Homo sapiens: one gene and its partners. The protein of the gene in region 1 interacts with the protein of each later gene in a biochemical or structural test. Each region holds a gene or a part of one and is shown on either strand. Other genes may lie near its edges. The genes, in order: HGF, CLEC3B and SDC2.

Region 1 (7,351 bases):
ACAATGCGTATAATGGACCACCTTTATATATACCATGATTTAATAAAATTAGGATGCTGAATTCAGGAGAATGAAACCTGAAAGTTGGAAAGTTATTCAGTGCCTCTATTCTACTCTATTTGTAAACTTCTCTGCATGCCCTACAGTCAAGTGGGCACAAGATGACACAGTCTATGATATTCAGTTAATCCTCAGTTTAAGAATCTGTTGGGGGCCACTTGTATTTTATTTTCACATATCTCTTGAGCTGAAGGAAGTTACTCAAGTGTTTTTGATTTAGAATACCACCTGCTGTGCCCCAGGCTCAGGAAGCAAATGGATATCTATTCTAGACCATGGGCAGAAGTAGAGGGGATAAGGCGAGGAGCACAGAGGAGGGTCAGGAAAACATTTACTCCAATAAATTTTATATTATGTCTTTGGACATAATGATTTGAAAATAATAATTATATCATTTGGATATGATTTCAATAAATCAAATGTTGGTAAGACATATTGAATAAATCTACAATCTAACTGTACAAATTCAGAAGTAATATCCAAGTAAAGCTTGGTTTTGTTTTTTTCACTGAATCTATTGATTTCTACTGACCATTAGAAATAACCATTGTAAATAACTTTGGTTTATTTTATGTTGAGGGTGGTGAGGGATTAGACCTGAGGAGCTTGGTCTTAGTGTATTGTGAGCAAAGCCATTGTCACTCTCATGGCAATCCTGTCTGCTTTGAGTTTATTTGTTTTTCTGAGTTACTCAACTTCTTAGATGAAGATGGCAAGTGTTAAGGACTTAATATAATGCTGCGGTCATATTAAACTTCTCTTTCACCAAACTGTTCTTTGGACACAATAAGAATAGTTACATTTGTGTAATTATCATTGCATTTAAGAAAACTAAGAGGCACTGATTATTTCAAATTCTTATTTTAAAAAATGTTATGTTTGGTCCTGTTTCAGATCCCGTAATATCTTGTGCCAAAACGAAACAATTGCGAGTTGTAAATGGGATTCCAACACGAACAAACATAGGATGGATGGTTAGTTTGAGATACAGGTAATTATTAATAGATGCAAGTCATGCATATCCAGAATATGTACAAGAGAGTCCTATTCCCAGAAATATGGACACATGTGGTCCTGAAGGTTGTACCCTCCACAGGGCACCTGGGTGAGGCAGTAAAAGAGGAAGCTGATCACATCTGCTTGCCAGACTGTAAGCTCTGGACTATAATTTGTGCCTCCAGAGGTAGTGCCTTTTTAAATCTTCACAAAGGTCCCATATGTGTTGGCAATGTCCCTGATTCTAAGAGACACTTTGGTTCCGATTAAGCAAAATACGGAGGACCTATTGAAACCTTAATATTACCATAGTAGTTATGATACTTGTTATTAAATTTCCAATCTAGGATATTATGGGTTTATTTTCTAATATGTTTATGCATGATCATGTCAAAACATTTATATTTGTTTTTAATTTCTGACTTTTTCCTTGTCAATCAAATGAAAAATGGTAATTTTAAATTCTAGAGCATTTTATCTTTACAAAAAGGCCAATAGTTAAATAGTCTTGATATTATAATAATCAGTGGGGATACAAAATTCTTGACATGTCTATTTCTCAATGCTCTTAAGAATCAATGACATATTCTACATAAAATCACTTTGCAAATCATATTGTTAGAGAAAATTATGCTTAATAATTATGTCATAAGAATTAAATACTGAAAATATAAGTTAACTTAAAATCTGATCTTACAACTTTCATATACTACATATATTATTCTGTATGTTAATTGGAATGCTAAAATATTTATGTCTTTGGCTATCTCTATCAGAACCTTACCATGCAACACACCCCAAGATACATTGAATTTGAACCACATTGTCTCTTGTTTTCTAGATACCTCACGTTTCTTCCTCTAAGCCTTTATGCTGTTGTTCCCACAACACACTGTGGCTTTCTTCCTCCATGTTTTATGCCTGAAAATTCCTTCTCCTTCAAATTTCAACCTAAATATCCCCTCTTTTAGAATACCCTCCTGTTCCCTTACCGCTAGCCTCCTAGAGTAGAGAAAAAGAATGTCTGTTACTATTATTAAATCACAGTGACATTAGAATAGAGACAACTTGAAACAGAAGTCCTTTTATGAATAAACCAATTATTGGAAAGCAAGAGTTTATATAATTTGATATATATGACTTTAGATGACCACAATGTTGTAGGAGATGGCCTAAAGTTCTTTTTTTAGTATACCCTTTTCTCAAGGAATGGCTTATCAGATTTTATAAATATTTATGCCAATAATTGTAGTATAGCTGTCCTAGGTGTGTAGTACTAAAATAGAATTGTGAAACTAACCAGAATATTAAAGCTGAGTGTGCAGTATGAGGATTTAGTAAAGACTTTAGAATTCTGTTGGAGTGTTTAATTTTCTTAATTATAGAAAATCTTTCAAGAGGCTGGGTGTGGTGGCTCACACCTGTAATCCCAGCAGTTTGGGAGGCTGAGGCAGGTGTATCACTTGAGGTCAGGAGTTCAAGAGCAGCCTGGCCAACGTGGTAAAACCCATCTCTACTAAAAATACAAAAATTAGCCGGGCATGGTGGCACATGCCTGTAATCCCAGCTACTGAGCGAGACTCTGTCTCAAAAAAAAAAAAAAAAAAAAAAAAAAAAGAAGGAAGGAAGGAGAAATCTTTCAATAATCCACATTTGAGTTAATTGGTGATTCTTTGCTTATCTTATAACCCCAGAGGATAAAAGAAGACATATATTAATACTTCTAAGTTATTTTTTCCAGTAAGAGAATTCACAAGGATACTGCTTTGGTCATCTCCATTGTTGGAAAAGCAGGTGAAGCTATTTTTCCATCAGATTAGAGTACTGTAAATTTTTAGTTTTTTTCCTTTTTAAATCCAAGTTCTTAGCAACAACAGCTGCTTAGTTATTCTTCCAAAACTCATACTGAAAAGGATAGAAATTAAAAGTCAATATATATTCTTATCCTCCTGTGTGGTAAAGGCCATAAATAACTGTGGTCTCAGTCTGGGAATCTTCTAGTATTACCCTCTGAAGCACTGAACATCTGTACTCTTTGGAAATGTAAATTATGAAAAGTTGTGCTTTTTCCATGTCTCTGCCAAAAAAAATGGATTTACAGATTTTGGATATCATCAAAAAAATGTACTAGTACTCATCATACTCTGCAAATATTTTACAATTTCCTAAATGATTTGCCTTGCAAAATTGTTTTACTTTAGAGATGAAATATTATATTCCTGATCTTATACTGGACAAAGTAATTTATTCAGATTCAGTTACATTTTATGTTAATATATCAAAACTACATAATGGTAGTAGAAGAAGGAAATAGTGCACGAATAAAATTGCTACCACTAGATGGTTTTCAGGGTTCAAACAAGAACTCAACTTTGCATTTTTAATAAGCAAACACTGAATTTAAAATAGATTCACATTTTTAAGAAATTATAATTATCCTATATTTGTAGCACATACGTTCCTCACAAGGATAGATGCACATACACACGAATATGTGTGTTCGGGATGGCTATTGATGTGTAATAACTTTAGACTACACAAAAGTCAAATTGATTTCATAAATTTATAGTCACATTATGAAAAAAAAGCTAACGCTACAATCACCAAATATCACCCTTCAGATAAAAGAACTTCTCATTTTATTCCAGTTGGGTTAATTTCTATATTTTCCTCTGCAGTGTATTTATTTTTAACAAATGGAGCCACAGGCTTTGCATTAATTGGCAGTCACTCTTTCTGCACAGATGTTACTTGTTTCTCTTTCCTCTTTTTCACAGAAATAAACATATCTGCGGAGGATCATTGATAAAGGAGAGTTGGGTTCTTACTGCACGACAGTGTTTCCCTTCTCGGTAAAGTGTTTTTAAAACTAGTATTATTTTGAGCCTTTAAAATGTGTATGTCTTCCACTTTGCTCTTAAGGTTATAATATGTATTCATTTTACAGAGATTCACAAATGGGGTGAACAAATTATTTCATTTTTAGAATTTGGCTTACAAAACTTACTTTGACTTCACAGATATTTACAAGACACTACTTCAGTTCACCTCTTTTCACAATTAGTGTTACCCTCAGTTGGGGAAAATTTTGCTAGAATTATGTAAATGTTTTATATCCCAACTTTCTACTTGTACCCTGTATTTCTAGATATAATTCTTTTTTTTTTCTAAATTGTCAATAGGCTTTTTTCAGTCCTCACTACTTCTTTCTCCTGTAGAGTCAGCCTCAGGATCATCCTGGGCATAATTTTCAATGAAAATTAGCCTAAGGAAAAGATAAAGAGGCAGCATTTGTAAACTTCCTTCCTGCTTCTCAGCAAGGTCACTTTGATTTTGTTTGTAGAAAACTTCAACCCCTGTTACCAAACCAAATATATACACAGCTGACATAAACAAAGCAAAATTTGCAGAAAAAATTATAATTCATGTAAAGTGCTTTACCTGAGCATTTTTCACAAGTGACTTCTAGCAAGCATAAGCAAGTTTCTAAAATAGTCATTTAGAATCTCAGCAATTTAAAGCCTCTTTCTGCTTATGTATGTTTGTAGTATTCAGAATCTGCCATAACAAATGTGTTGTTCTTTATTATACTATGAATCAAATTTTAAATTTAGGTTATGTGCCTTAATAGTCTAAAATAACAATAGATAGGAATAATACTACAGAATTTGGAATTATTATGTTTTACATTTAAATTTTTTTCCTTCAAAACAGAGACTTGAAAGATTATGAAGCTTGGCTTGGAATTCATGATGTCCACGGAAGAGGAGATGAGAAATGCAAACAGGTTCTCAATGTTTCCCAGCTGGTATATGGCCCTGAAGGATCAGATCTGGTTTTAATGAAGCTTGCCAGGTTAGTTACTTTAGAAGATTTTGTATTTTTCACCTGGACAAGAATTGTTGGAGCATTTTCTTCAGCTGTGTGGCAGTTCGTTCTCTCTCATACAGATGCATTATAAACATATGTTACATGCTGTATATATATGTATATATGCGTGCGTTTGGGTCTCTCTGTGAGTATAGAGAGAAAGGTATTTGCAAAACTGTAAAAAAATGAATAACTAACATTGGGCCAACAGTCTGATCAGTCTGTTTTAAAATGGAAACTCAGCAGTTATTTGATAACTTTCAAATGTAAAATAATTATTTTAAAAAATAGCATTGACCATTTATTCTTAAATATTGGCAAATACATGACTCATTTCTTTACTACCTATTCCAAATGTCATCATTACATTTGGACATTCCCACCTTTTTTTTTTTTTTTTTAAGAAACAGGACTTCATTCTCTGTAAATGCCATATTAAACATGAACACTACATTTAATATGTTAATTTTGTGTTGAATCCAGTTGAGAGTACTTACCATTGTATTTTGTGTTTTCAGGCCTGCTGTCCTGGATGATTTTGTTAGTACGATTGATTTACCTAATTATGGATGCACAATTCCTGAAAAGACCAGTTGCAGTGTTTATGGCTGGGGCTACACTGGATGTAAGCTAGTTTTCAAAAGATGAGGCCATATTTATTTTATTTTAAAAAGAACACATTTGTCTTTGTTTCTTACTTTTCTCACCTTATTGTATGTTTTTTGCATCAATCTAGTGATCAACTATGATGGCCTATTACGAGTGGCACATCTCTATATAATGGGAAATGAGAAATGCAGCCAGCATCATCGAGGGAAGGTGACTCTGAATGAGTCTGAAATATGTGCTGGGGCTGAAAAGATTGGATCAGGACCATGTGAGGTAAAAAGGAAGTTCTTTAATAAGGAGTATGTGATTCATAGCTTAGTGTTTCATGTTTATTTTTTTCTGTTTATTTTTCTCAAATCAAAAATATTGTATACCAACCTATTCTAGGAAAGAGGAATTGGGAAAATTAACTCTGTAATATTCTGCATTTCTTTCAACTAAGCAGTGAGATAATCAATGTTTTATTAGCAGCAAACTATGATGACATTTGTCACTCAAAAAATAATAAGTGTGTAGAGCCGGAACTCCAAGGGAGAGCTATTCAAATGAGAAGTATCCAAATCAGTTAGATCAATGGTTTGCATTTTTCTAATGTTTTTCTAAATTTATTTTATCTTCCCAAATTATCTCGAAGTGAACTCCACTAATTATATCATTCAGAGATGCCTGGCTTTAAACTTTTAAATCTCTTTTTGGGTAAGCTGTTCCCTCTTTTGCTCTCTCGCTCTGTGTATGTGTTTAAACAGATTCTATTTTAAAAAGCCTAAAGGTCAAAGTTTGTGACTTTACGAGCTTGGACATTTCATTTGTGAGGCAACTGTTATTTCGGCTTGGCAATGTTCCTATCCCTATTTTACATAGACAAGCTGTTAAACTGTTAGTTTAGTTAGATTTTGAATGTGAGAGACATGTTCTCCAAGCTTCAGGGCTGTGGGATTGTGGAATGCTGTGTGTGGCAAAAGATGAAATGAGTTCAATGATAGTGAAATGTCCTTTGATATGTAGGAAAATGCATGCTGTAAGTATGGAACATAAATATGTATTGAAATGCAAGTGTTATACACCTTGCTCTGAGATTTTATTTCTGAAAAGAAGAGAAAATGTTTACTGTTTACTGAGTTTTTAGAACTGCTTAAAAATGATATGGTTAGAAACAGATTATATGTTTATAACCAGTTTCAAATTTGTTGCCTTTCTAGTAAATCATGAACAATGAAACCATTGTTCATTATAACAAGGGAACATTTACTAGGAGAAATAAATGACTATACTTTAAAAAGAAAAAGCAATAAGCATCCGGGAAACACAGAAGTTTCTAACTAGACCCAACCTTACAGATCATCTAATTATTGTCATTACCAAAACCAATTTGACAACTGCTTTTGAAGAATAGCCTTTAATTTGGATTATCACCTATATATTTTTCACTTCCCTCTTCAGTTTGAATTATTCATATCTGTATACTATATATGTTGTTTTTAACTTTATTGATAAGACTTGACCTCAAGTAGATTCCGCCACTTCTCAAAAATGTATTTATCCTCCAGAATGTTTTTAAAAATATATATGTCACTGACATTTAAATCAAGGTAATTTAGCCACTGAAATAAATTTGAAGGAGATATCTCCCAAATGTTTGTATAATAGCAGTAACATCATATTTAGTGAAAGTCTCCAGAGTGAATTACTTTGAGGAGTTTGTCTCAGTAATCACTAGTACATTTGTTTAAAAATCAGTTTTCTTTCCTCAACTGGCATAGTTTATATAGTCTCTTGGAATAAACTATTTTTCTTTACTGTGTGAAATTCTACTTTA
Region 2 (7,351 bases), on another chromosome or scaffold:
GGCTCCCGGGATGTCCTGAGGAAGAAGGGGAATGCCCAGCTCCCCACTCCCCGCCGACCCCATAGCAAGAGTCAGCATGTCAGTGCCTCCCAGAAATAGATCTACAGCAGGAGAGGTCAGCAGTGGGGGCATCCCCCTAGAAATGGGGCGGGGGGTGGGGGCGATGCTGGATTCCAGCAGATGGAAACGATTCTACAAAAAGAAGCCTGGAGCTTTGAATAGAGCTGTAACGTAAATAAAATATCGTGTCAGTGTTAGTTTCCTGGCTTTGGTAACTGTGCTGTGCTTAGCAGCAGACCGGGGCGTTTTCATCTCCCTATTCTTTCCCTCCTTCCTCTCCTCAGTCCTCCGCTCATTCCCACCCTCCTGTGGCATGAAGCGCGTGTGCTCAGCTCGCCCTCCTTCACCTCCTCCCTTCTCGCCTACTTCATCACGGAGGGAGCTTTCGAACCGGCTCCTGGGACCTCCTCCCCGCCCCGCGGACACAGCACAGACTGCAGCGCCTCTCCTCTCCGCGAAGCTGCACCAACTTTATTTGCAAAAAGAGGCTCCAAGCGCACGGAGAGGATGGGGGCTGCAAGGTCCCCACCCTCCTCCCGGCCTCCCGCGGCCCCTGCCCTCCTCCAGGCCCCCCACGGCCCCCGCCCCGCCGGCTACACGATCCCGAACTGGCAGATGTAGGGCAGCTGATCGCGGCAGCGCTTGTCGAACCACTTGCCGTTGGCCGCGCCTGACAGGACCGCGCAGTTCTCGGTCTTGCCGCCATCGGGTTGCGCGGTGATCTCAGTCTCCCAGTTCTTGTAGGCGATGCGGGCGCCGGTCATGTCCACCCAGGTGCCCTCGGCCGCCATGTCGTTGAGGCCCAGCCAGATCTCGGCCTCGTTGCCCACGCTCTGGCGCAGGTACTCATACAGGGCGTCGTTCTCCGAGCCAGTCTGAGGGGTGCCCAGGGTGCCCCCGCGCGAGATGCAGTCCTCGCTGGCCTCGTGGAAGGTCTTCGTCTGGGTGAAGGCCAGAAAGCATTTCATGTGCACCTTGGTCCCCTTCAGGCAGACTGGGAGTGGGGAGAAATGGCTGTCACCGAAGGTCCCCCTGTTCCCCAGGCAAAGAGCCAACCGCCCAGGCCAAGCCCACCGTCCTCCATCCCATCCCGTTTATCCCATCAGTCCTGACAGCCCCTTAGACCCAGGCAAAAGGGGTCCTGATGGTTCATGCACTTTGAGGACCTGGCTGTGGTGGCCACTAATGTACAGATCCAGATCCCCACTCAGGAGGTCTTGGTGCTCCCGCGGCTGGGAGAAAAGGCAGCCCTTGTGCTACAGAAGCACCCAGCCCCAGCTGACACCCCTTCCCAGGCCTCCACCTCAGTCATTTCTGGCCTTTACCCACCCCATCTCCTTGGGTCACAGAGGCTGGCCTGGTGCCTGCACTGCAGCTCAGCTCTCCCTCTGCCCACTTCCTCTTCCCCCCGCCCCCACATGTGTGGCTCCTAGGGCTCACCCTAACAAATTAGCTCTGTCTCAGAGTCAGCTTCCCAGGGAGCCCAGCCACAGCCACCTGCTCTGGTTCTCCTTCCTCCATGCCCCTCCCTAAGATCAAGCAGCTTGCAGGGCCAGGGCACCTGCCCACCTACAGCCTAGGCCACACTTCATGTACCCAGGGCCCCAAATCCCTACCCAAACAGCCCAAGCAAGCTTCCAGGGCCTGCCAAGTGCCTTTTGCAGGGTCAGTTCTCCTGAGGGCTGGTAGGGTGGGGCTGAGTGGATAGAGCTGAGACTGCAAGAGAGAAGACAGGAAGTGCTGGGCACAGGCTGTGGTCAGAGGCCGGCGATCAGGCAAGGGACTCTGAGGTGTCCACAAATTCTCAGTTTGAGCCTGGCCCCAAAGGTTGTGATGAAGGCACATATTTGGTCAAGTTAGGAGGATAAAATCTATTTTTGTTTTGCAGTTTGCATTTTCAGCTTGATTTCTAGCTGAAATATCTAGACATACTCTGATTTCTCCTGAGATCGTATAAATCGTTCACCTTTTACTAAAGATTTCTGTGGAAAGGAATATCTTGACAGACAGGTGTATGTCTGCATTTGTCCTCTTGCTGGTGACCCCACCACTTTGGGGGATGTCTGCACTCCCCTCTATCCATTCCCACTCAGTTACTTCCATTTCACTCAACAAATATCAATGGACAGCATCCCAGTGTCCCCATGGGCATCTGACACCACAACCGACTTTAAACATGGGGCCTGAAGCATTACAGAGGTGTCTACCCACAGACTCTGCCCCAAGTCAGCTGTCCTACCTCGTGCTATCCTACAGCTTAGCCAAGCGGCCTTCATTGCCTTTCCTTCCTGCTGGTAACACTGACGTGCTACCTAGACTTTTGTTGGGGATGAAGGATTCACTGCCCTGGCTGCCAGGAATGCTGCAGGAAGAAAGTCCTCAGCTTTCAGCCTCCTGCAGGGACTGCCTCAGCAGAAGACAGCCATCTCTTCCAAGGCCGTGCCCCTCCCTAGAGCAGCCTACACCCAAGACTGACCCATAAGCCCTCTTGCCCCGACTCAGGACAGTGCCGAAGGGTCATCCCGTCATCAGGGCTCCTGAAGTCAGCTGAGGCTTTCGTGGCACCACAGTACAGCTCGACTTCTCCTTCTGCCCACTCCTGCTTCCTTCCATCCCTTCCCTAGCACAGGGGTTGATCCTGAGGGTATCTCCTGATAAGTCTCCTGTGGGTTAAACTCCATCTCAGAGTTGCTTCCTAGGACCCTCACCTGAACCTCCCTCCAACACATAGGTAGTCCTCAGTCAATGCTACTTCTCGTGATACTATCATTGCTGCCAACATTTTGTTGCTCTGGTCTATTCATGATCCTGTCGATTTATGCTAGTCCTCCACACCTCTGCTCCTGCCCTGCCATCTGCTTGGAATCAACCCTCTTTATCTTCTCTGATTCCTACACAGCTTTCAAGGGCTCAAGTGATTCCATGAATATATTGAGGTTCCCAGGGAGCAGGGCCCTGGCTGCATCACCTCTGCCTCCTTGTGCCTGGCAGAGATGTACCAGGTGGGAACCTCCCATGTGTATGCTGGTTGGAGGAGGGAAAGGTTGCCCCCTGATTCCTTCAACTCTGGTTAGGTCAACAGAGCTCTGCAATGCTTTGGGTGGGTTTATTGAAAAGGTGATCTTTGGGTTGTGAGGACAATGAACAGGAGAAGGCCCCAAGAAGCCCAGCAGCTTCCTAGAAATCAGCAGACATGGGGGCTTTCATATGTCATGCTTTGGGCCTCCATATGTCATGAACTTTTTTCAGGGAGGTCCCCACCTCATTACCTCACCCCAGGTGGCAGTTGATGCCTGGGTTACATTGACTTTGCACAGCACAGAGCTTAGACATGAGAGAGACCTTAGAGTTTACCCTGCCTACCTTACAGATGAGGAAACTGAGGCTCAGAGTGGCACTGGGCTCATTCTAAACATACCCGCTGTGCCAGGCACTGTTGCCTCCAAATCCCTTCTCTCTTGTCCACCTCCACTATAGAGGCTGGAAAAGCTACATTCTTGCATTCTCAGATGTTCTTAAAGCTGCAGGTGGCCATATGATAGATTTCTTGTCAATGAGATGGAAGTGGAAGACTACGTTCCCTATAAATGAGACAGATGTGGTTGGGCTACTCTTCCTCCTTCTTGCCTTGAATGCACTCATGATGCCTGGAGTTGGGGCAGCCATCTGAAGACCATGAGGTGAAACTTCTGAACAAAAACTTATAACTACCTACTTGCAGACTTACTTTTTGTTTAAGCCACTGATAGGTTTCCTATTACATGAAGTCAAAAACACCTCTGGAGATGCTCCCTTTCTCGAGCACTCTCTTCCTACCTGCCATGCCAAGCAAGCTGTCCAAAGTTACATGTTTGTCCTTCCTTCAACAGAGATTGACTGAGTGTTGCTATGTGGCAGGCACTATGCTGGGCAGGGTAGTGGAAGAGACAAGGGCAATGAAAAGCAAACATGGCCCTTGTGTTCTCAGGGCTTACTATAGTCTAGTGGAGGCAGCAGACACAAATCAGGAAATGAGTGTATCATTACAGACTGCAGTCAGTGTGATAAAAGAAAGGACACTGTTCTGGGAGAGCTTATAACTGAGGAGCTGATTGAGATGAGGGATTAGTGACTCCTGAGAAGATAATGCTGGAGGCATTTATTAGGTGGATCTTGGGGGAGCAATTCAGGTTGCCCAAACAGCACATGCAAAGGCCCTGTGGTGGGAGTGCAGAAGGATGGCAGTGTGAATGCTGAAGGAAAGCATATGAATGGGAGGGAGTGTGTAAAACCATCCGGTGAGAAGGCTGTTGGGGGTTTCTGAGGAGGCAGGCGGGGAAGGGAAGGCCTTGCAGATGGATGGGCCTTGGTCACAAAAGCAACAGGTAAGAGAGTGGCTGTGGACACAGGGTGGTTTATAGATTTGCTGAGGAGTCAAGGTGATTTCCCAGCTGATAACTCGAGGGGCAGCATAGCAGAGCTAAGTGAGGCTCTGCTCCTTTCGGCTGTCACAAGGTCCTTCTCGGTGGAAAATAAGGGTGAGGATGTAGTAACAGGACCACTGCACGGGTGTGCTGTGAATGAGTTAACGTGCATCAAGCATCAAGAACAGTGCCAGAATGTAGTGGGCTCACATGTAAATAGTCATCAGTATTGTGAGTCTGCATCAAGCATCAAGAACAGTGCCAGAATGTAGTGGGCTCACATGTAAATAGTCATCAGTATTGTGAGTCTGTGTTCTCCATAGAATGGAAGGTGAGGTCATATAAAGGTAGGTAAATCGGAGGTATGTGGAAAATGCAGACTATATGACAGGAACATGGGGAGTGAGAAACAATAGGCTGCCAGGTATGCTGGCCAGAGGGCATGACCTTACCATGCGCCTGGGCCCTGTTCTTGGTGATTCTGTGCACCCTCCCTCAGCTGGCTAGTGCAGAGCCAGGAACACCAAGGCCCAGCTTGGCACTGGGCAGCCTGCCTCCATTCAACTCTTGCTCTTCCACGAGTCAACTAACCAACGAGGTGAGTATGAGCCAGGTTCAGGACCTGTCTATGCCTCAGTTGCTGCTGACACATCTTTAAAATGGAGCTGACATTTCATGGAGCTGACAGCTCATCTTTAAAATGGAGCTGACAAATCCCACCTCAGCAGAGTTACGATTAAGAGAGACAGGGTCAGCAAAGCTGCTGACACACAGGAGTGTGGAGCTCTCTGGGGCTGCAGAGGCCAGCTGAGTGAGGGGCTCCTGGGAGCTTTGCTAGGGTGGGCCACTACCTCTGCCCCATCGAGCGCTCCAGGGTCACTTCTGGTGGGCAGTAGTGGATTCTTGTTGGAGAATTTTTTGTCCTCTTGGGACATCCCCACTTCCACACCACCCAGCTGTGGCCAGAGATTTGGCCGTACACATCCAGGTGAGTTTTGCAGACACGTGTCAGGGGATCTCCCCAAGAGAAAGAGGTGGGGCTCCCTGAACCTGGTGCCTTCACCCATAGGCCTGGACTAATGGAGCCAGGACCCTGATGCTGAACGGAGGCGAGAAGAGCATTGCTGGCTGCTGGCCTGGGCCCTTCTCTCAGACGCTCCTGCCCAGAGAGGCTACTGCCTGCACTCACCCGTCTGCAGGGCCTGCTGCTCCTTCAGCAGGGCCACCTCCTGGGCCAGGGTGTCCAGACGGCTCTTGAGCTCCTCAAACATCTTTGTGTTCACAACATCTGAAGCAGGAGGAAATATGTCAGGGTGGGGCAGGGACTGAGCAGGAAGGATCCTACCTTAGCTGCAGAGGGATGAGAGGAAAAGACTCCCCTCAACCTTGATATCTTGGGAAACTTTCTCTCTCTCTATCCTTGCTGGTGGTAGTCTAATTAACCACTTGTGACTTCTGCCAGGGGGCCCATCCTTCACTTGCTCCTGTGCTGCATTTGTTTGGGATTGTTGCTGGGGATCAGATGGGGCTGGGATTAGCAGAGGCAGGGGTGAGGGTGTAGGCACAGGCTTCAGTGATCCCCCACCACCCAGCTACCTTTTCAGCTCCAGGGAAGAACAGCACAGGAAGCACAGCAGGAGCCCTCAAGAAGCCCCCAGGTTCACTTCCCCAGGCTGGAGGAATGCGACACAGACCAGCAGGCACTCCAGCCTGGGGCACGCATATGCAGGGCTTGGAGGTGCCACAGACACGGGTGGCCTGGGCGAGCTGCTCAGCCTCTCTGGATTTGGTTCCCTCATGTATGAAGTGGATGATGACAGCCCCACCTCCTAGGACTCTGGAGAAGACTAAGAGAACTGAAACGCAGAGCTGCCTACCTCAGTGCTTGGCTGAGTGTGTGCCCATCACAGCTACTAATAAGATGAGGGCAGAAGGAACCCAGGTTTTCCACTCTTACAGAGGAGGCCAGGCTCTGGGCTAAGCCGTTCTACATGTCACCCCATGTGATGCTCATAATCAACCCTATGACACAGGTAACGTGTCATTCTGTACCACCAGCATTTCACCATGAGGAAACCCAGGCTGCCCTAAACCAACTGGCCGAGGATGGCAGAGCCCCAGCTGGCAGGGCTGGCCTGGAACCCAGGTGCACATGGCTCTGAAGCCATGCTCTTCCCCACCTTCCCCATGGCACACAAACGGATTCCTAACAGGAGCTGTCCTGCTGGCAGCCAGTCATGTAAGAGTCAGCAGGGGAAGGCGGGGAAGCATATTTCTATGTGTGTGTAAGTTGAGGGTGCCGGGAAGCATATTTCTATGTGTGTGTAAGTTTAGAGCTCCTGGGGCGGACCCTGGTCTTTCTGAAACACCAGGGCTTCAGGAAAGGCTGCACTCAGCTTGGGGAAGTGGGTGGGGAAACACTTTAATGGTCCATTTGGCTGTGTCTGCATACATTCCACACTCACAAAGAGTGAGATCAGAGCCTTCGTCCACCCATAAGGTGCCTTTGCAGAAGAATCACAGGCAAGACACATGGTTGTGTATATAGAAATTAGCGATGTAACTTACCAAACTGGAGCAAAAACACCCTGATGAGCAAGGCAAAAAAAGGGAGAGTTTGGGGCTGGCAAACCAGCCTGAGGTCATGTGTGCCTCACACAGAGACTGCCTCCACCAGTTATAGCAGCACTGTACCCAGTCACGTGATGTACCAGCATAGGGTGCCATGTGAGGCTGTGCAAGGGGGCACTGAAGAAGGGCATTCTGCTGAGGGACACATGAAGGCCCATTTGTCTCCTAAGCCTTGCCCTGGCTAGAGTGGGTCAGACCAGAAAAAGAGATGCCTTTCTATAATTTGTCAGTTTAGAGGAGGTACCTTTTGTAATTTG
Region 3 (7,486 bases), on another chromosome or scaffold:
ATACATATTTGTTGACTGAATGTCAAATTTTGCCAGCCTTTAAAGAACCATACCACACTGTTAGAAAAACTGACATGAAGGGCCAAGTGTGATGGCTCACACCTGTAATCTCAGACCCTTCGGAGGCCAAGGGGGAGGATCACTTGAGTCTAGGAGTTCGATGCCAGCCTGGGCAATATAGTGAGCCCTCGTCTCTAAAAAAAGAAAAAAAGAAAAAAAAGAAAAAGAAAAACAGAAGTAACTGTTTTATCTCCTGTCTTATTTTATGTATTATACACTTCCTTGATTTTCCTGTGTCCTCCTATCCAAAACTGTAACAATTTTGTTCAACATTAGCACCATATCATTTTATGAAACTCAAATCAGCCAACTTCTCTGGGAAGGGGTTGATGGAGGTGAATAAAGAGAACAGTGGAAAGTTTGAGGCTGAAAATAGACTTTTTTTTTTTTTTTTTGGAGACAGAGTCTCGCTCTGTTGCCCAGGCTGGAGTACGGTGGCATGATCTCGGCTCACTGCAACTTCTACCTCCCGGGTTCAAGCAATTCTCCTGCCTCAGCCTCCCAAGTAGCTGCGACTACAGGTGCCCGCCATCACACCTGGCTAATTTTTGTTGTGTTGTTCTTAGTAAAGACGGGGTTTCACCGTGTTGCCCAGGCTGGTCTTGAACTTCTGAGCTCAGGCAATCTGCCTGCCTCGGCCTCCCAAAGTGCTAGGATTACAGGTGTGAGCCACCGCGCCAGGCCTGAAAATAGATTTTTTTGGATTGCCTGTAGATTTTGGTCATGGCCTCAGCTCACTTGCCAGTATTAGCGATGGCTCATTAATGGTTGGCTGGATGGATATCCTATTCCTCTCAGCTTCTATCATCTTTCAAGTGAATTTCATAAGAGCCAATCCTACCAAATTGATTTCTAGCCTGGACTCCTGGTAACAGTCCAGGGGGTGCCAAGTGGAAGAACAACCGAGAACAACAGAATGGCATCTTTTTTTTCCGCTATCCCCTACTCTGACAACTCACCTCAGGACAGAACACCTGTTTATCCACGGTTGTAATGTGGTATCATTTGTTACCGTAGTGACAGAGTCCGATGTGTCAGTTTAGGTTAAAAACTGTCTTTAGTAGCTTTCATTTCTATTTTTTCACTTGTCTGGTTCTCTTTATTTTTTATTTGTTTTTACATGTTTGCATCTTAATCTCTATGTTGTTTATTTTTAATATTTTCTCCTGAGACTCTTGAAGTGTGGTAATTATTCTTTTAGCAATCAATGAAGCTATTTGGGAAGTGATTGGTTAAGCTGTGCCCCTCAAAGCATAGCCCTCAAAACCTGAGGACTTGAAGTATATTTGCAAAGAACCTTTGGTTCTAGTCACAAGCTATACTTAGTGAATTAGATATACTACACAAAATTCTGCCAAATTTTAGTCCCCATCAGTTTTTTAAACATTTCCAATTAGCAAAACACACAAACAGGCCTACATCGTTTGCGAATTTAGACAAATCCTGACTAATACCAGCGGACCTCCCCTGACTTCTGTCCCCATCCCCACTCAGCATGGGTGACCTCTTTGTAGCCAGCTCTTGTGTAAGTGCTTTTTATACTGTCAGATTATCCTTCTTGCCACAGCTGTTAATAAATCTGAACACAAGATCTTGAATATTTGTTTTCATCTCCTTAATATTGTGTCACTCAAAATGGTACCAATTCCCTTATTATATATACTCTCAATGGAGTATTTATCATCTTTAAAGAAACAAGTCACTGAGCATCTCATCAACACCAAGAGCCTTGGGGTGTGCCTTCAGGGCAGCAAACAGATAATATCCCTTCAACACGTGTATCCACTTATTCATTTTTTATCACTGTCTGCCCAAGCTGAATCAGAGAGCATTCACCACGCTTCTTGTTACATGGGTGCCCCAGTAAACAGCAATAACTGTGAGAACCAGCAAATCAGTGGAGTGCACTTCCTGTTTTACTGGAATTCCAATTTATTTGATGAATACTTAACTGTTGGGGACAATGGAGGTGTGGCCTTGCCTGAAGGCTGGCGAGTAGACGAGGCCTCTTATGAGGACAGAGCTGGTATTTTATGGCTCTTTGCATGTATTTTGCATTGCTGCTTTTCCTTTGGAGGCCTTTTTAAGAAGTCTCCCCATCTCATGAACCTCTTCAACCCACAGACTCCATCTTAAAAATAAGGGCACTAGGCTGGTGGCTCACGTGTCTAATCCCAGGACTTTGGGAGGCTGAGGCAGGCAGATCACTTGAGCCCAAGAGTTTGAGACCAGCCTGGGCAACAATGGAAAACCCTGTCTCTATAAAAAACACAAAAATTAGCTGGTGTGGTGGCCTGTGCCTGTAGTCCCAGCTACTTGGTAAGCTGAGGTGGGAGGACTGCTTGAGCCTGAGAGGTAGAGGCTACAGTGCAGGCCACTGCACTCCAGCCTGGGCAAGAATGAGACCCTGTCTCAAAAAAAAAAAAAAAAAAAAAAAAGGCTGTGGTTCATTCTTTCAAAAGCTAAGTGGAGCCCACATTGGCACAGATGCCAGCTACAGTGTCTGTGGAATCAGAAGCATCATCTGATGTTACAACTTCTGGCCTATTGCTCTTTTTCTTCTTTCTCCTTTGCCTACTCTTCTATTTCTCCATATTACCTTTTTGTTGGCCAATGCCTTAGACTTGCTCATGAGCATTTGTAGGTTTGGTAGCTGGCACACAAAACCAAAGGAATAAGTGTCTCCAAGTTTGAGTTGTAATTCTCCAGTTAAATTTCTTTCTTTGAGATTTATTACAGTAATAGGTTACTAAGACATTTAATTCTCACTGAGGGTATGACTGTATTTTATTCTAATACTGAGTTGAAAAATTACCATGGCCTCATATCTATATATCTACATTGGTGTATTTTAAAGGCTCACAACTCTTATACGGTATAAATTGAGCTTTAGAGCAAAATTTATTCAAGATAATATTTATCATGTGTCTTTATGTACCAGGAATGAGAATACAATGGTGAACAGACAGAAAAGTCTCTGGTTTCCTGTAGTGGGCATTCCAGGAGCAGAATGGCGTCATAATTCATTTACTCTATAAGTCAGAGAGAAAAATGATGGCACGAACTGCAAGGGATTTGTGTGTAAAATTTGTGACAGTAAGAAAAAGAAACTGGAAGGGAATACGCATTTGCCATGTTCTATAATATGCCACAGACATTGTAACAAAATATTTCATGTCAGCTACTTCCATTTAGGAAATACATGTTCATTATTTTCTTCAAACTAAGAATTACTTTATCCCTCTTTTCTTTGAAGTTATCTTAAATCTGTTATTATTCAGGGTCTCTATCCAACTTCTCATCAAATTACCCTATTTGTAGCTTCCAAACGTTAACACCTATCTGCTAAAATGGAGCCTATAAAAAGCCTTAGTGGCATAAACTGTGTGTGAGGGAGAAATGGTATTTAAGCCCTTAATGAAGTTAGGAGCTTTCAAACTGTTGCACTTTGGGTTTACAGGATCCTTCCTCCATGTCCCTTTTTTGGGGGTGCGGAAGGATTTGGGAGAATGGGAAACACTCTCACTATATATTTATTACATTAATTATCTTCTCTTTTAAAATGCAATTTTCATGAACTGGCGATTTATGAACACTTCACATTGCTTGAAAGCATCTTACACTTTTTTTTTCCCTCAACTCACAAAGCAGTTTCTTTCTACTGGTCGAATTCTCAAGGCAGAAAAGCTACATACGTCTCTCGTTTCTTCACTAATTGTTCTCTAGAAAAGGGAAAGTGAAGAAGGGAAAGAGAAAAGACAACGGGGAAGAAAAGAGCATAGAGGAGAGAGGAAAAGTGGGGAGAGAAAGGAAGAAAAGGACTGAGAAAACGCAGGAGCCCTGGCTTGCCGGTGAGCAGAGCCGGCGCAGCCACAGCGCGGAGCCGCGGCGCCCACTGGTCCTCGGAGCTGCCAATCGGCGTGTAATCCTGTAGGAATTTCTCCCGGGTTTATCTGGGAGTCACACTGCCGCCTCCTCTCCCCAGTCGCCCAGGGGAGCCCGGAGAAGCAGGCTCAGGAGGGAGGGAGCCAGAGGAAAAGAAGAGGAGGAGAAGGAGGAGGACCCGGGGAGGGAGGCGCGGCGCGGGAGGAGGAGGGGCGCAGCCGCGGAGCCAGTGGCCCCGCTTGGACGCGCTGCTCTCCAGATACCCCCGGAGCTCCAGCCGCGCGGATCGCGCGCTCCCGCCGCTCTGCCCCTAAACTTCTGCCGTAGCTCCCTTTCAAGCCAGCGAATTTATTCCTTAAAACCAGAAACTGAACCTCGGCACGGGAAAGGAGTCCGCGGAGGAGCAAAACCACAGCAGAGCAAGAAGAGCTTCAGAGAGCAGCCTTCCCGGAGCACCAACTCCGTGTCGGGAGTGCAGAAACCAACAAGTGAGAGGGCGCCGCGTTCCCGGGGCGCAGCTGCGGGCGGCGGGAGCAGGCGCAGGAGGAGGAAGCGAGCGCCCCCGAGCCCCGAGCCCGAGTCCCCGAGCCTGAGCCGCAATCGCTGCGGTACTCTGCTCCGGATTCGTGTGCGCGGGCTGCGCCGAGCGCTGGGCAGGAGGCTTCGTTTTGCCCTGGTTGCAAGCAGCGGCTGGGAGCAGCCGGTCCCTGGGGAATATGCGGCGCGCGTGGATCCTGCTCACCTTGGGCTTGGTGGCCTGCGTGTCGGCGGAGTCGGTGAGTGGGCCAGGCGGAGGATGCGCGCGCCGTTTAGGGTGTTTGAAGCTACGAGAGGAGCCCGCAGGGAATAGGGGAGCGCCACCTGGGGAACCCCCAGTCCCCAAGTATACACCGGAGATCCGCTGGGACAAATGCGCTCGTCCGGTCACCCTTTCCCCCTCTTCCCTTCCTCAGAAAAGCGCTGCTCGCTGGCGTTACCCCGCGGTCCGCGGGAATGGGGGCACCGAGAATTGCGGTTTGGTCTAGCCGCAGAGGCCCCTGAAGTCACTCCCAACTTCTTCGCCCTCGGCGGGTCTTGCTGCGTGGTCTGGGAAGGACGGAGGGGAAAGGGTGGCAGGAGGGGGGAGCCTGGGTCGGGCCCGCGAGGGAACGGCTCCACTCCGCGCGCTCCTCGAGACCAGGGATGACCTGGAAACTTCGGGGTCCCTTCCTCCGCACACCATCCCCCCCGCGCCAGCTTTCCTGTTTGACTGCATGCAAGTTCTGGGGAGATGGGGGCCAGATTTAAGAGACCCGCGAGTGTCCAGAGAGAAAAGTTTGCAAAAGTTCTTTTGTTTGATGCTCCCTGCGGCTAGGGCGAGGTAACCGACACTACGTGGAATCGCAGTAGGCGATCCCTCAAGGGGATACTGGGGGAGGCACGGAACGCGTCCGAAAATGCTGGGACGCCGGCCACTGGATTCCCAGTCCTGCGGCGACCCCCTCCTCGTTGAGGGGTGGAGGTTGCACCGCGGGGCGTCAGGGACGGGAGGACATTTTCATAGGAGTTACACGGGAGTGCCGCAAGCAGGGCGAGGCGGGGTACGTGTGACACGGCGCTCGGCTTCGGGTCGCCTGGCCGCTGGGGGACAGAGGCTTCCCTCCCGCCACGCTCGCCCTCTCTGGCCCTGGCGGGGCGCTTCTGGGGCCGGGAGGAGTCTCGTCTCCGGCGGAGCGCCTGCCGGCACCCAGCTTCCCTCCCCCGCCCTGGCGGTGGGAACTTGATTTCTCCTTTTGGTCGCGCTTCGGGGGCTGGAGCTTGTTTCCCCACGTCGCCCAATGAGCGCCCTCTAAAGGGAACTGCCTCCTTGGCCTCCTCTCGTCCGCAGCTGCCTCCACCTGGGCGCCAGGAGCTCTGTCGGGCCAGGTGGAAGCTTGAGCACCCCAGATTTCGTCTGCAGCCTCAGTGCCCTCTGGGGTCTCAGGGAGTGCGGCTGTTTCTGGCCCTTCTGGTTCCCCACGTCCTCTCCCTTTGCCATTTAATAACGTGTCAATTTCTAATTAATTGAATGGTCTTTTCAAAGACAAATTATATCATCTTAAGGTCTTTTAGGTAGTTTTATGAGTTTGAGTCTCCCTCCCCCCCTTTTTTGTGCTGAGGCTAATTTAGGACTGGGAAACCTCTTTGGCATCGAGCGGCAGATGGACATTTTTAATCAGTGTGGGAGCCTCTGTGTGTGCTAGCAGATCCCCATACGTTCTTTGTGGTTGGAGAGCATGTAGAATTGGAAACTGTACAGACTACATGAGTATTTTGGGTGCTCAGGTTGTAAAATAGAACTCCCAGCCTTATCAGTGTTTCCCTTTGGCAAATGATGGTTTAATCCGTTGGTATTAGTTATCTCCCAGCCAGTTAGGATGAACTTTGGCTCTTTGTACACCAAAAGGCAGCAGTTCTCTTGTTTATTTCAGATGAGCGTTGTTGCTCCTCTTGTTGCAAAACAGGGCAAAGGGACTTCATCTAATAAATTTCAAGAGCCTGCCTAAAAAACTGCACATGGTTAAGGAGGCCCTTTTTTTTTGCTGAGTCTTATTCATGGATTTGCTAGGAAATGTTACTGTTTTGGGATTCTGGAGAAAGAATGTTTCTGTCTTCTGCTCCTCTGGGTTTTTGCATAAATCTACCAGTGCTCCTTAAGGAAGTTTTTTGGCCGAACTATATACCTGTCCTCCCCGGTGACAGCTTTCCCCTGAACTGTGTATCTTTGGGGTTCTAATATTTCTCAATTTGAACCAGAACTGGATGCTTTCCGAGTGAACTGCTTCATTGTGATAGACACTGTTTTCAGTAATTGGAAAATCATCCAAAAAGGGTGATTAGATATTTATAAAATGTCAACTTAGAGACTAGCAGAGAATCTTTGTTAGGCAGTGAGTCAGTCTTTCTAAATAGAAGCTGTTTCAAGGCCCAGAATGGCTAACAGTCCATTTAAATTACTTTTCAGTCTCCGTTTGTTTCATGTATAGCAGCAAAAATATAAATGAAGTCAAAAGACTGAATTTAAAAAAAAATTAGCAATTACAGAATATTATTTCCAGGACTTTGCATTTTAATTTGAAAACTGCAACTGTTTCCTGGGATTTAGAAGTAGTGATTTGGGTTTAAAGTCTCCCTTTAAAGGAAGAAAGGAAAACTGCCTACAGTTAGTGAATTCTTAAGTTTTATACTTAGCTCTGGGGGTAAAAAAGAGGTTCTCAGGAACTAAGGCTCAAAACTGCCTATGAAAAGGAACTGGTAGCTGTTCCTTTATGGATCCTGGAGGCAGCTGGGAAAGCCTGTTCCTAGTGATCCATTCATACTTTCCACTGGCAGGTTAGGACTTTGGCTGCGGAGCACCAGGCAAGGGGAAAATCTGACTGAGTGTGGCAGTAGTGATATGCTGCTGGTTTTCTGTCCATTTTGTACATGACTGTTTATCTTTAGAAATAATATATTGCAGACTGCTATAAACACATAATTTGAACTGGAAATATGTTTAAGAAAAGGAAGTGTTTTGAACTAG

The links.
Region 2: the proteins of HGF (region 1) and CLEC3B form a complex in vitro, tested with the Homo sapiens proteins (one study listed by BioGRID).
Region 3: the proteins of HGF (region 1) and SDC2 form a complex in vitro, tested with the Homo sapiens proteins (one study listed by BioGRID).

The regions. Positions count from the first base shown.
Region 1 is NC_000007.14:81,703,847-81,711,197, reverse strand, and holds part of HGF (hepatocyte growth factor isoform 1 preproprotein), read left to right. Parts: intron 1-954; coding exon 955-1,051; intron 1,052-3,833; coding exon 3,834-3,908; intron 3,909-4,770; coding exon 4,771-4,911; intron 4,912-5,444; coding exon 5,445-5,551; intron 5,552-5,662; coding exon 5,663-5,808; intron 5,809-7,351. UniProt on the Homo sapiens protein: Potent mitogen for mature parenchymal hepatocyte cells, seems to be a hepatotrophic factor, and acts as a growth factor for a broad spectrum of tissues and cell types.
Region 2 is NC_000003.12:45,029,227-45,036,577, reverse strand, and holds the end of CLEC3B (tetranectin), read right to left. Parts: intron 6,436-7,351; exon of another isoform or gene 6,341-6,435; intron 5,752-6,340; coding exon 5,653-5,751; intron 1,055-5,652; coding exon 654-1,054; 3' UTR 507-653; downstream 1-506. UniProt on the Homo sapiens protein: Tetranectin binds to plasminogen and to isolated kringle 4. May be involved in the packaging of molecules destined for exocytosis. Plays a role in retinal function.
Region 3 is NC_000008.11:96,489,611-96,497,096, forward strand, and holds the start of SDC2 (syndecan-2 precursor), read left to right. Parts: upstream 1-4,202; 5' UTR 4,203-4,661; coding exon 4,662-4,721; intron 4,722-7,486. UniProt on the Homo sapiens protein: Cell surface proteoglycan which regulates dendritic arbor morphogenesis.